Linked DNA regions of Homo sapiens: all the other regions are linked to region 3. Evidence: fine-mapped expression QTL. A gene starts in region 3. Each other region holds a variant in brackets. All regions are shown on one strand. Distances are from middle to middle.

Evidence for each region. PIP is the estimated chance that this variant, and not a neighbour inherited with it, causes the effect.
Region 1: its variant is fine-mapped to the expression of RNF144A in cerebellar hemisphere (GTEx, PIP above 0.99). The same link has a PIP of 0.9 or more in cerebellum, left ventricle and tibial nerve.
Region 2: its variant is fine-mapped to the expression of RNF144A in unexposed skin (GTEx, PIP above 0.99).
Region 4: its variant is fine-mapped to the expression of RNF144A in whole blood (TOPMed, PIP above 0.99).

What each region holds. Positions count from the first base shown.
Region 1 is chr2:7,023,127-7,025,831 of GRCh38, forward strand. RNF144A (ring finger protein 144A) reads left to right here. Exons shown (of 9, transcript NM_014746.6): 7 at 1,243-1,390. Among named protein-coding and RNA genes, the nearest start is that of GRASLND, 110 kb to the left of the region's middle. The variant C/T (reference allele first, on the strand shown) is at 1,226.
Region 2 is chr2:6,991,547-6,994,251 of GRCh38, forward strand. The region is part of intron 2 of RNF144A (ring finger protein 144A); the gene reads left to right. Among named protein-coding and RNA genes, the nearest start is that of GRASLND, 74 kb to the left of the region's middle. The variant A/G (reference allele first, on the strand shown) is at 1,296.
Region 3 is chr2:6,915,999-6,918,623 of GRCh38, forward strand. It overlaps RNF144A (ring finger protein 144A), which reads left to right and starts at 1,414. Exons shown (of 9, transcript NM_014746.6): 1 at 1,414-1,624. It overlaps GRASLND (glycosaminoglycan regulatory associated long non-coding RNA), which reads right to left. Exons shown (of 5, transcript NR_033997.1): 1 at 2,404-2,625; 2 at 852-1,226. RefSeq lists a silencer at 1,254-1,743.
Region 4 is chr2:7,048,887-7,051,591 of GRCh38, forward strand. It overlaps a transcript of RNF144A not described here. Among named protein-coding and RNA genes, the nearest start is that of GRASLND, 130 kb to the left of the region's middle. The variant G/T (reference allele first, on the strand shown) is at 1,158.

The sequences.
Region 1 (2,705 bases), 110 kb after region 3:
CTAGGATCTGTCTGTCTCAAGACTCTGTGCTCCTAATTAGGAGGACATACTGCTTCTCTCATTATTTCTTACTCTGTTGCCTTCTACTAATGGACCAAACAGTCACGTTCAGTTGGAATGTGCACCCCAAGTGGAGGATTGTTCACTGCCAATCATCAGACAGCTCCTACTAAAGTGAAACTACATTTAATGCTCATATTGACTGGAAGCTTGTGAGAGATCCTTCAGCCAGAATGCACTCAAAAAGCCAGAATTTGCTCAACTGCCGTGAATATATACCCATACATGTGTTAAATTCTGAAAAAGCTGCCCCGAGAAGGAGGGATGCATTTTCTCCTGCTGATGTTTGTTTGATATAGTGAGTTCCAACAATATAGCAAATGGACCCCCATAATCAGTGATAACTCCTCTTAACAGTTTATCATTTATTCCTTCAGATGCTTTTCTGAATATTCTTACCCATCTTTTAAAAATTAACAGCATGGGGTGAGTCATACCTAATGTCTGTGTTATCTTTCTTTAGCAACATTGAACTACTGCTACCCTTTATCAAGCACTTCATAAAAGCTGCACCCTGCGCTGTGCTCTTGGCACACGGAATCTTTTCTCATGGTCACACTGATGAGAAAACTAGGGCTTGGAGGGTTGCTCCACAGCTGGTTTGTAGCAGACCCAGCTCTGACCTCAGCTTAAAGCCCTTCTTGCTAACCCTGCAGACCTAGCCAACTTCTGAGGAAAACAATTCTGTAAGAAGAGCCAGGTGGATCTATCTCAAGTAAACAGTGTGTGTTTGTGTGTGTGTATTTGCAACATTTATTTATTTTTCTTATAACAGCAAAGTACATAAAATTTATATCAACCCTTTGGAAAGTAGACAGCTCTGTGAATAAGGATACAATATTTGACCTTAACACTATGATTCAGATACCTCCGTTATAATAAGCCTTTCGCTGTATTTTCTTTTGTTTGTATACATATATCTCTAAATTTAGATATGTGTTGATGTTGCTGTAATTTTTTAAAAATTTTTCCTAACTCAAAGTGGCTGATTCACAGTGTTCTGGTTAATTTTTTTTTTCTGGAGTTTCTGTTTCTTTGTTTTTTGGTTTTTGTTTTGTTTTTTCATTTAATACCAAGAAAACTCAGTCTGTGAAGTGGAGCCGATGCTTCCAGCATAGCCAGTGCTCCTGGGTCTCCCGTGGGATCCGTTTGTGCAGAGTCCTCA[C/T]GGCGTTTCTCCCACAGTGCTGCTTTCAAAATGGAAGAAGATGACGCGCCCATCAAGCGCTGCCCCAAGTGCAAAGTCTACATCGAGCGAGACGAAGGCTGCGCGCAGATGATGTGCAAGAACTGCAAGCACGCCTTCTGCTGGTACTGCCTGGAGTCTCTGGACGTGAGTACGGCCTTCAGCTTCACCTTGCGGCATTTAGCTTTGAGGTTTAGATTTGGAATGAGAAAAATAGACCAGCTGTTTCCTAAAGAGCTTGGTGCCTACTCCTGTGTAACAGTGAAGCAACACCGTTTGGTGTTTCTCCTGGGTTTGTGAAAACATTAACTCATGAGCGCCATGGGGACAGAAGCCTTTGTGACTCGTATAGTCCTGGGGTCTAAACACTTCATGCAGGTTCAGGATCCAGCCTGGGATTTAAAGGGGTTTTAGCATCTTAGGTTTTGTCTAAGCGGGGACTGTCATTGTCAGTTTGGGCTGCTGTGACATAATATCATAGATGAGGCAGGTTAAATGACAGACATTTATTCCTCATGGTTCTGGGGGCTGGAAATCCAAAATCAGGGTACACCAGATTTGGCTCCGGGGTTCCTGATCAGGACTCCTTCCTGGTGTTCAGGATAGTGAGGACAGACAGAAGTGGGGGCTGGGGGGCTGTTGGGCTTGGGGCCAGTCTTAAGACTTCATTGACACTCACATCATCTACAGGGCGGGAAAACGTGCAAGCCCTTTGCTCTCTGGCAGAATGGAAGTTCTGGTCTCATACGGCAGCCTTCTCCTAAGTATGCTCTGCTTCAGTGTTTCTCAAACACACCCTACCGTGTGTGCCTGCAAGAGCCATGTCCCTGACGGGAGGGCACAATCTCCCAGGCCCACACGTCTCTGGAGCTTTGAGGCCTGATGCACAGGTTGCTGCTATTTAGCTTCTCATTCTCCTTCCTTGCCCATATTAGGGCGTGGGCATCTTGCCAAAATGATGAAGCTATGATTTTAGTTTTAGAATAATTTATTGATGCATACTTTTTTAAGAACTATAATTAGGCCAGCCTCGGTGGCTCACGCCTATATTCCCAGCACTTTGGGAGGCCGAGGTGGTCAGATTACCTGCGGTCAGGAGTTCAAGACCAGCCTGGGCAACATGGTGAAACCCTGTCTCTACTAAAAATACAAATTATCCAGTCATGGTGGCATGCACCTGTAGTCCCAGCTACATGGGAGACTGAGGCACAAGAATTGCTTGAACCTGGGAGGCGCAGGTTGCAGTGAGCTGAGATGGCACCACTGCACTCCAGCCTCGGCAACAGAGTGAGACTCCATCTCAAAAAATAAAAATAAATAAATAAATAAAACTATAATTAAATAGCAGGCCTATTTATCTGTTGGAACCATTGTAGCTAGGACAGTCCAAGCAAATCAAGTCGTGTTTCATGAAGGGATATATTTATGTCTGTTCTGCACAGCAAGGATGAATGTATCCAGT
Region 2 (2,705 bases), 76 kb after region 3:
TAAATGGCTGTGTCTTAGGGCCACACAGACTGTGACTAAATAGCCCTGTATGTTTGTGCAGGTTACCCTAATCCTCTCCGAACCTTGGTTTACTCATTGGTAAAATTTGAATAATAGCAAACTATCAAAGTCTCAGAGTCATTGTGCAGAGAAATGAAGTAGTATATGCAAATGGCGAACGCAATGTCTGATGTACATTTAACAGTCTCTCTCTCTCATACATACATATATAATATATATACACACACACATACATATATATCTCTCTCATAAATACATATATATATGTATATATAATTGTTGTTATAATTATGGAATAGCTGCTGTGACCACTGTCCAGAAGGCTAGAACATAGTTCCTACCCTTGAATAATGTATCGTCAAGTTGGGGAGGTAAATTCACACATATGTCAGACTTTGAGGGTCACACTTACCCAGAAAGACTGGTGACATGGTAGACCTCCAAAGCCACACTTACCCAGAAGAAATGGGAGTTACTATGAGAGTGTAGGCCAGGGCCTTGTAGACAGGACAGCTGAGTTTTGGTATTGTTGAAGAACGGTGCACTTGGTGGGCTTCGACCCACACAGCCTTGAGTGAGATAGACTTGGTTGGAAATGCTGTTGAGTGGAATGATACTGACCAGTGGTTCTTGGGCTTCATTGTGCATCACAGTCCCTGCCAGGCTCACGGAAACAGATCACTGTGCCGCCCCACCCACCTCCCCAGAGTTTCTGTTTTAATGAGTCGGGGTTGGAGCCCAACCAGTTACATTCCAGCAAGTTCTCAGGTGATGCTGATGCTGGTGTTTAGAGAGCGCTGCTTGCGAAGCCTGGTGGACCACACACAGCAGAGACCCAGAGACGGGAGACAGCGGGGAGACGTGAGAAATCAGAGGAGACATCACACAGCACCAGGACTGATGCTGGGTGTGAAGGGTTTGTAGGGTGTGGAGAACGGGTAAGGAAGGAAAAGGGAGTTAGGCTGCAGAGGAAACATGAGAGTGTCCCAGGCAACTGGAGGAGAGCAGGGACTTGCTGGAGGAAGGCATGAAAGTAAGAGGTGGATGATGACTGGCTGGCAGCTGCCTACCTTTCCAAGGTTTGCTTTGAAGGAGTAAAGGTGGGAAGAATAGGGGCCTACAGAGGTCCGTAGCCCTGGGGCTCAGAGATGGGATAGTTTTGGTCAAATAACCACCTTGGACCTTGCAGGAATCTGCTGAATCTCTCTACAGTGGACTATTTTCTCTTCCAGCTCTCTCTTATCCTTGTGTCCACACCTCTTTCATCACAAGGC[A/G]CAATCCTTTGCACGGTCTCAGTCATGCTTAATAAGTAAATTGCCTTATGCACATTTTGAATTGCTTAAATTGAATAATACTTATAATTGACCAGATGTTCCTAAAACAGTTTGCCATTTCATATGACTTGACATTCACATTAGGAAAACAAAGACTGTGCTTTCTTTTATTGTGCATTGTGATTCTCTTAGCATAATCTGATTGCAAGTTCGCAGCTGTTCGCTGTTTGCAAAATCATATTAAGGCCATCCTGTGTGTAGGGAAGGTCCATGATGGGTTTAGACAATATAGACCCCTTTTTTTTCTGTAAAATATATCCTGTTGTCACCATTTGAATCACGATTTTGAGCACAACTCAGAGACTGTGTATTCTGTTGGGGAAAGAATAGTGATGTGATTCCTGGAAATGGTGCTGTGACCTGCTTCAAATCCAGCTCATGGGGCTGGCGGGGGAAGTGGGAGGTGAGGGCCATGGGCTGACCTGTGCCCAGGGCAGGGGAAGCCACTGGGGGCCAGATAGAAATCATGGTCCAGGCAGAAAGGAAGTCAGACAGATGGAACCCTGTACGCTGTGCCAGGAGGTCACAACAGAGAGGCAGTAAACAGGAAAAGGAGCCCAGATCTGAAGCTGGAAGGAGAGAGAATTGTCTTGGGAACAAGCACGATGGGGCAGGGCAGAGGTCCAGCACAGAGGCTATAACTGGCTTGTGGGGCAGGGAACTGTTCACGCGGGGTGGAGGTGGGGATTCCAGGGCCCTCTGTGGAGCGGTTAAGCTCTGCCTCTGGGTAATGCGTTCTCGGGTGATGTCCAGGCTGGGAGCATAGTGCATGGCTGTCGATAAGGGAGGAGGCTTTAGGAGGTTTTGATGTTTGATTCTTCTAAAAATTTTCTCCATTGGATTGAACTTCCGAAATGACTAATTTCACCATATGATATCTCTTCCCAACAGCTTGTTTTATCCATTTTGTCTATGTAGGTAAAAGTCTAAGCTTGTTAACCTGACATATCATAATGACTTCTACTTACCAAGCTCCTAGTATCTATATATTAGATATATTATTCTAATATATTGCTTCTTACTTCTCACTCACTCTTCCCAAGTCTACATGAGTGGTGATGGTGATACAGGCTTTACAGAGGGAAAAAACAAAACAACAAAAACAAAAATTGAGTTCACAGAAGTTAAATTTAAGTTATGTGATATCTTCAACATCAGCATAACCAAGTGGCCAAAAAAAAGGAATTTGAAGCCAGGTCTGCTTGACTGCAAAGCGTGAACTCTTTACCCTGCAACTTCCCCAACAGCCCGACAGAACTTGTACCCAGTGCTTTTTCAACATTGTCAAAAAACAAGCTCTCCCCAGATCTCCAGGCCAGAGCAGCCAATTGCCAGCTACTGCCCCCTTGA
Region 3 (2,625 bases):
TTCCCATTGTGCATTTTTCTTGAATAATGACATTTCTAAAAAGAATCTGAAACTGAGGCATTAGAAGGCAAGTGCTCGTTCATATATTTGAAGAGGTCAAATATTTACCAGAATAACTTCTCAATACAGAGGGGACAGCTTTATTTTATTTTACTATAAAGATGTATGTGTAGCAGAAGACAAATTATGCAGAGCTTTGAGTTAGTTAAGAATCATCTGATTTAATTCTTTGGAGAAATGAGACAAATTGTAGCTAAGGACTATGGAGTTGTTTTAGTTTGCCAGTTATATTTAATTTGACTATTTCTTTATTTATTGAGAGACAAAGTCTCACTCTGCTGCCCAGGCTGGAGTGCAGTGATGCAAACACAGCTCACTTCAGCCTTGACCTCCTGGGCTCAAGCAGTCCTCCTGCCTTGGCCTCCCAAAGTGCTGGGCTTACAGGTGTAAGCCATGGCACTTGGCCTATTTGACTTGTTTAATCCCTCCGAAGAACTCATACATACTATTGCCACCTCATTTTCCACGTAAGAAAATGGAAGCACGAAGACCTTAATAACTTGCTTAATGGCTAGTAGGTGGTAGAGCTTGAATTTAGACCACACAGTGTGGAGGGTATGCTATTAAGGAAAAACGATGTTCTAGTGGGGTTTCCATTTAATATTGCAGAAAAAAGAATCTATATATTTAAGAAGGTGTTATTTCATGCACACTCGTAGGTTTTGTTCATATATGCACATCTGACGTATAATTTAACATTTGTGTAACTTCAAGCTTCTATGGGGAGTGGCAGAAGATGCAGGAATTCTATTAATACCTTCGCAGATCTTAGATTCCAACAAGCTGGATACCTTAAGAAAAATAAAGAAATTGCTGTGCTTGGATCCCAGATGTCCATTCCACCTTTTGGGACCTCCCGGGGGGCCCTCTTTTCTTCATCCTTCAAGACAAGGATAGTGGGGTGAACAGACAGACTTTCCTTGCGAGGGTTGGCTCAGGAAGGCTCTGGGCTCATCTCACAGCCGCCCCAGCGAGGGTCGGGGAGGCAGGTGCTGGCTCCGGTGGGGTCTGCGGCAGAGCAGGACTGGAGCCCAGGGCGCAGCTGCACAGCTCAACGCCGGTTCGCGCCCTGGTTTACAGCGTTGGGCTGGGTCACCCCTTCTTTCCTAGCTTGCTGCTGTGTGTTCCCTCGGTGTAGGAATCAGGGGAGTGTCTTCTGGAGGCCACTAAAGCAGGAATAGCATTTTCATGTTAGCGTGCACGGGCGGTCTCCGCAGCCCCTCCTCGTGCCGGAGCCTGTCCTGGGGCCTGCGGGGCGGCTCCGGGCCTCGGGCCGGCGCAGGCGGGCGGCAGGGGGCGCTGTGCGGCTCGGCGCGGGGGCGGGGCCGGGGCCGAGCCTCCCGCGTGCCCGGCCTCTGTGCGCGCTCGCGCCCCGCCCGCGCAGCCGCTTCTCCCCGCGCGGGCTCTCGGCAGGCGGGAGGCGGCAGGGCTGGCATTGCAGTGCGGGCCGTGCGGGCTGCGCGGGCGCGGGGAGGCGCGGGCGGCAAACTGCGGGCACCCGGCACCCCGCAGCCAGTACCGGGCGGAGGCGTCAGAGCCGCGCACCGCGGACGAGCAGGCCCAGGTAGAGTGACGCGCGTCCCCTTTGTGTCCGCATCGCCCGGGCCGGCCGCGGAGCGGGGAGGGCGGGACGCGGCGCTGCGCGGCCGGCCTTGGGGCTCGGGGCTTGCGGCCGCGCCTGCCCCGCTGGGTCCTGCCCCGGCGCCCGGTGGCAGCGGGCGGGGGGCAGCGTCCCGGGCGGGGACTCGCGGGCTCCGTTCAGAGGACGCCCGCCCTGCCCTGCCCGTGTCCCTGACCTCGTCCCTGCTCTGCTCCTGCCCTGCCCTGCCTCTCGCAGGCGGCGCCCGCGCCCCAGGGCAGTGGGCGCTTAGGGACCTGGCGTCCCCCTGCCTGCCCTGCGCGGTCGCGGGTCTGCGCTGCGGCGCGGGACAGGGCGCCCCGGGCCAGGGTCCCGCGGGCGAGCTGGCGGCGGGGGCTTTCAAGGTTCGCGGCCCCGCCCGCAGACCCTGGGGCTGGAGCCTCGGCCCCAAGAGGAGGTCTGGGAAAGGACGACGCGTCCGGGGCATCGCCACCGGCGGGGAAGGTCGGAACTGGCCAAGAGGATGCCCCGCACATCCCCTGCGCGCGGGGTCCGCGGCTGCTACTGCCCCTGGTCCCCACCGCGAGCCCTTTCCCGGGGAATGAGCCGCCGCCCGAGCCCCGGAGTTCCCTGCGGGTCTTACCCACCCCAGCCTCCGGCCGCCGACCCCAAGCCCCCTGCACTGTGCTTGGCTCCCAGCTGTTTGGTCGCTTATGCCATCCTGGAGGCTTCCTGGTCCTGGGGTGAAGGGGTGACTTCTTTACCCTAATGGTCTTCGTAGGCAGGTCTCAGGATGTCCACTCCAAAGTTCGTGGTCTTTTTTCTAGAGAATAATAATTTTTAAAATCCATTGAACTGGCCGGGCGCGGTGGCTCACGCCTGTAATCCCAGCACTTTGGGAGGCTGAGGCGGGCGGATCACGAGGTCAGGAGATCGAGACCACGGTGAAACCCCCTCTCTACTAAAAATACAAAAAATTAGCCGGG
Region 4 (2,705 bases), 130 kb after region 3:
TTGGGTGCCACAGGCTCTTCATTGGATACCTACTTTGCAGAAACCCGTGGCAACTGAGAATGATAGAGATGCAAAGCCTCCTAGTCCCTCCTCCCCACCGGGGGCTCAGGATGTGGTGGGATTTACAGTGTAGACAATTACTCTCCTATGAGAGGGTTTGTGGGGCCCTATAGGATCACAGAGGAGGAATGAATGGCTGCACCTGGAGGGAAGGCAGGGCCTGGGGAGGCTCCCTGTGCAAAGGTATCCCTCTGAGTTGAGGGTTGAAGGCTGAATAGTTTTCAGCGGGGGCTGTTGGGGGATGGGCTGGCCTTCCAGGCAGAGGAGGGTAAGGGATGAGAAACAGAGATATGAAGGTACCGCATTTTCAGAAACACTGTATAGTGGCTGAGCACAGTCAGTGCTCAACAAATGTTGCTTGAATGAGCAAATGATGCTTCCAAAATAACTAAGTCCAGGAAGGAGGTGAAATTGGCTGTATATAAATTATTGATCAATGGTAAGGCAATGAATGAGAAATGGCTGATTAGGTAACATCATTCACACTCAGGAGAGAAAACCTCTGGAGATTTTGTTTGCTGATTTCACCTGGCATACAAAATCCTGAAAAACGAGTCTCTTGGAATCCACAAAGGATGAAGATGACAAAAATTCAACTGTGCTCAGCGATTTGAGTTTTCAACGACACGAAAATGAGGTTGCAGTCAGAGTGGATCTTTTTCTCATTTCTGCACAACTCTTAATACATTGTTGGTGCACAATGAATGTTAAATAATAATTTAATGTTTTTATTAATGACAAAGGAGGAATCAACATATTAATGAAACTTGCAGATGATACTAAGCTGGGAGTTATTACAAACACCAATTAGGAGATGAAGACGATGAAGAGGGACCGAGGAAAGAAAGTTCCAACAAAGTGAGCTTCTGTCTTGCAAATACAAGCAAATGCACCTGCAAAAAATGTGTACTGTGGGAAGCTCAGAAGGCGAGGCTAACACAGGCTTAGGAGGGAAAGCAGTCCAAATGCAACGGCTTTTGGAAACGCCAGGGGCAGGATGTGTGATGAAAGTCATAAGAAAAAGCACAATCTCCTCGGCTTTTTCAGTCGAAAATGCATTCGATACCAAGTTTCATTTGGTTGCACGTTGGAAGCTG[G/T]TCATGACTTTGAAGGAAGAACTGTTTGCCTTTCCCAGGAGATGAATTCACGAGTGAGTAGGACCTGGTTCCCTGTCCTCAGTTCGGGTCCTGATATGGTTTGGCTGTGTCCCCACCCAAATCTCACTTTGAATTATAACAATCCCCACACGTCCAGGGTGGCGCCAGGTGGAGATAATTGAACCATGGTGGTGGTTTCCCCATATTGTTCTCGTGGTAGTGAATAAGTCTCAGGAGATCTTATGGTTTTATAAATGGGAGTTCCCCTACGCAAGCTCTCTTGCCTGCCGCCAAGTAAGACATGACTTTGCTCCTCCTTCACCTTCTGCCATGATTGTGGGTCCTCCCCAGCCATGTGGAACTGTGAGTCAGTTAAACCTTTTTTCCTTATAAATGCCTCAGCCTTGGGTATGTCTTTATTAGCAGAGTGAGAACAGACTAATGCAGGTCCTCTTCAGTCTCTCGTGGACACACCTGGGGCCTCCTAAAGTATCTTCTGCTCCCAGCCTCCTCCCTTCTCACCATTCTGTTCCTGGGGCATTCTCTGTTTCCATCTTGTGATGCTTCTGTTGAAAACCATTGAGAGCCTTCTGCTTCCTGTGTCGTTAAATCCAAATTCTTCACCGTTGCCTATATTTCAGTAGCATAAATTCTCTCATATACCTTTAAGGGAATGGAGAGCAACAGTCTTTTGAAAGACAAGCAGATTCTTGGCTCCCTCACTGGCCTCCATGGGGAAGACTTAGGACTCTGTATACCAGCATTGGAGGGGAATGTCGAAGGGAACGGGAGCTCCCAAGGGAGGAAGTGCTGGAATCCCAGTGCTGTCAGGACCACTCAGACCCCGTCTATATTTATAAACAAGGAGAAGCTCAGTGAGGCAGAATGCCTCGGGTGCAGTCTTGAAGCTAGTTCCTGGCAGGGCTTGGACTGAAGTTTAGATCCTCCCTTTTCTTCATCAGTGCCTTGGTACCACACCACACAGACCAATGCAAATGCACGGAGACATCACAGTCTAGTGCGGCAGGCCGGAAGGTGATGATCACACTCCACAGGTGGTAGCAGAGAGGAGCTCCACCCCCTGCAGGAGAAGTCAGAGCAAATTTCTGGAGGAGACGGAATTGGGGTCGGGGATGGAGAGAGCAGGGGGTTGCTCAGAGCACAGATTGGGAGGGAATGCCACCACACAAACACACCCATGCAAGTAAAGCCGCAGACGCCCCAAGAGAGCTTGGCAAACCTTCAGTGCAGAGCTGAGCTCCAGTAGGGTGAGGGGATTGGAGGTGGAGCAGGTGGACGGGGTAGAGCGGTAAGGGACAGAGGGGATGCACTTTTTAAGGTTTAAGCCAGGCTGGAGGATTTCAGGTTAAGGTTGGTGCTGACACAATAAGATATGGGATTTGCCTACGCCACGGTAGCTGCATGTAGGGGAGCTTGGATGCAGAGGATGAGGGCCAGGACATGAGGTTAGGAAGCCGCCAAAAGGAGCAGCGAAGAGGAGATGGGGGTCTATGCCCAGCCTGTGGAGTGGAAAGTAACAAGTATCAG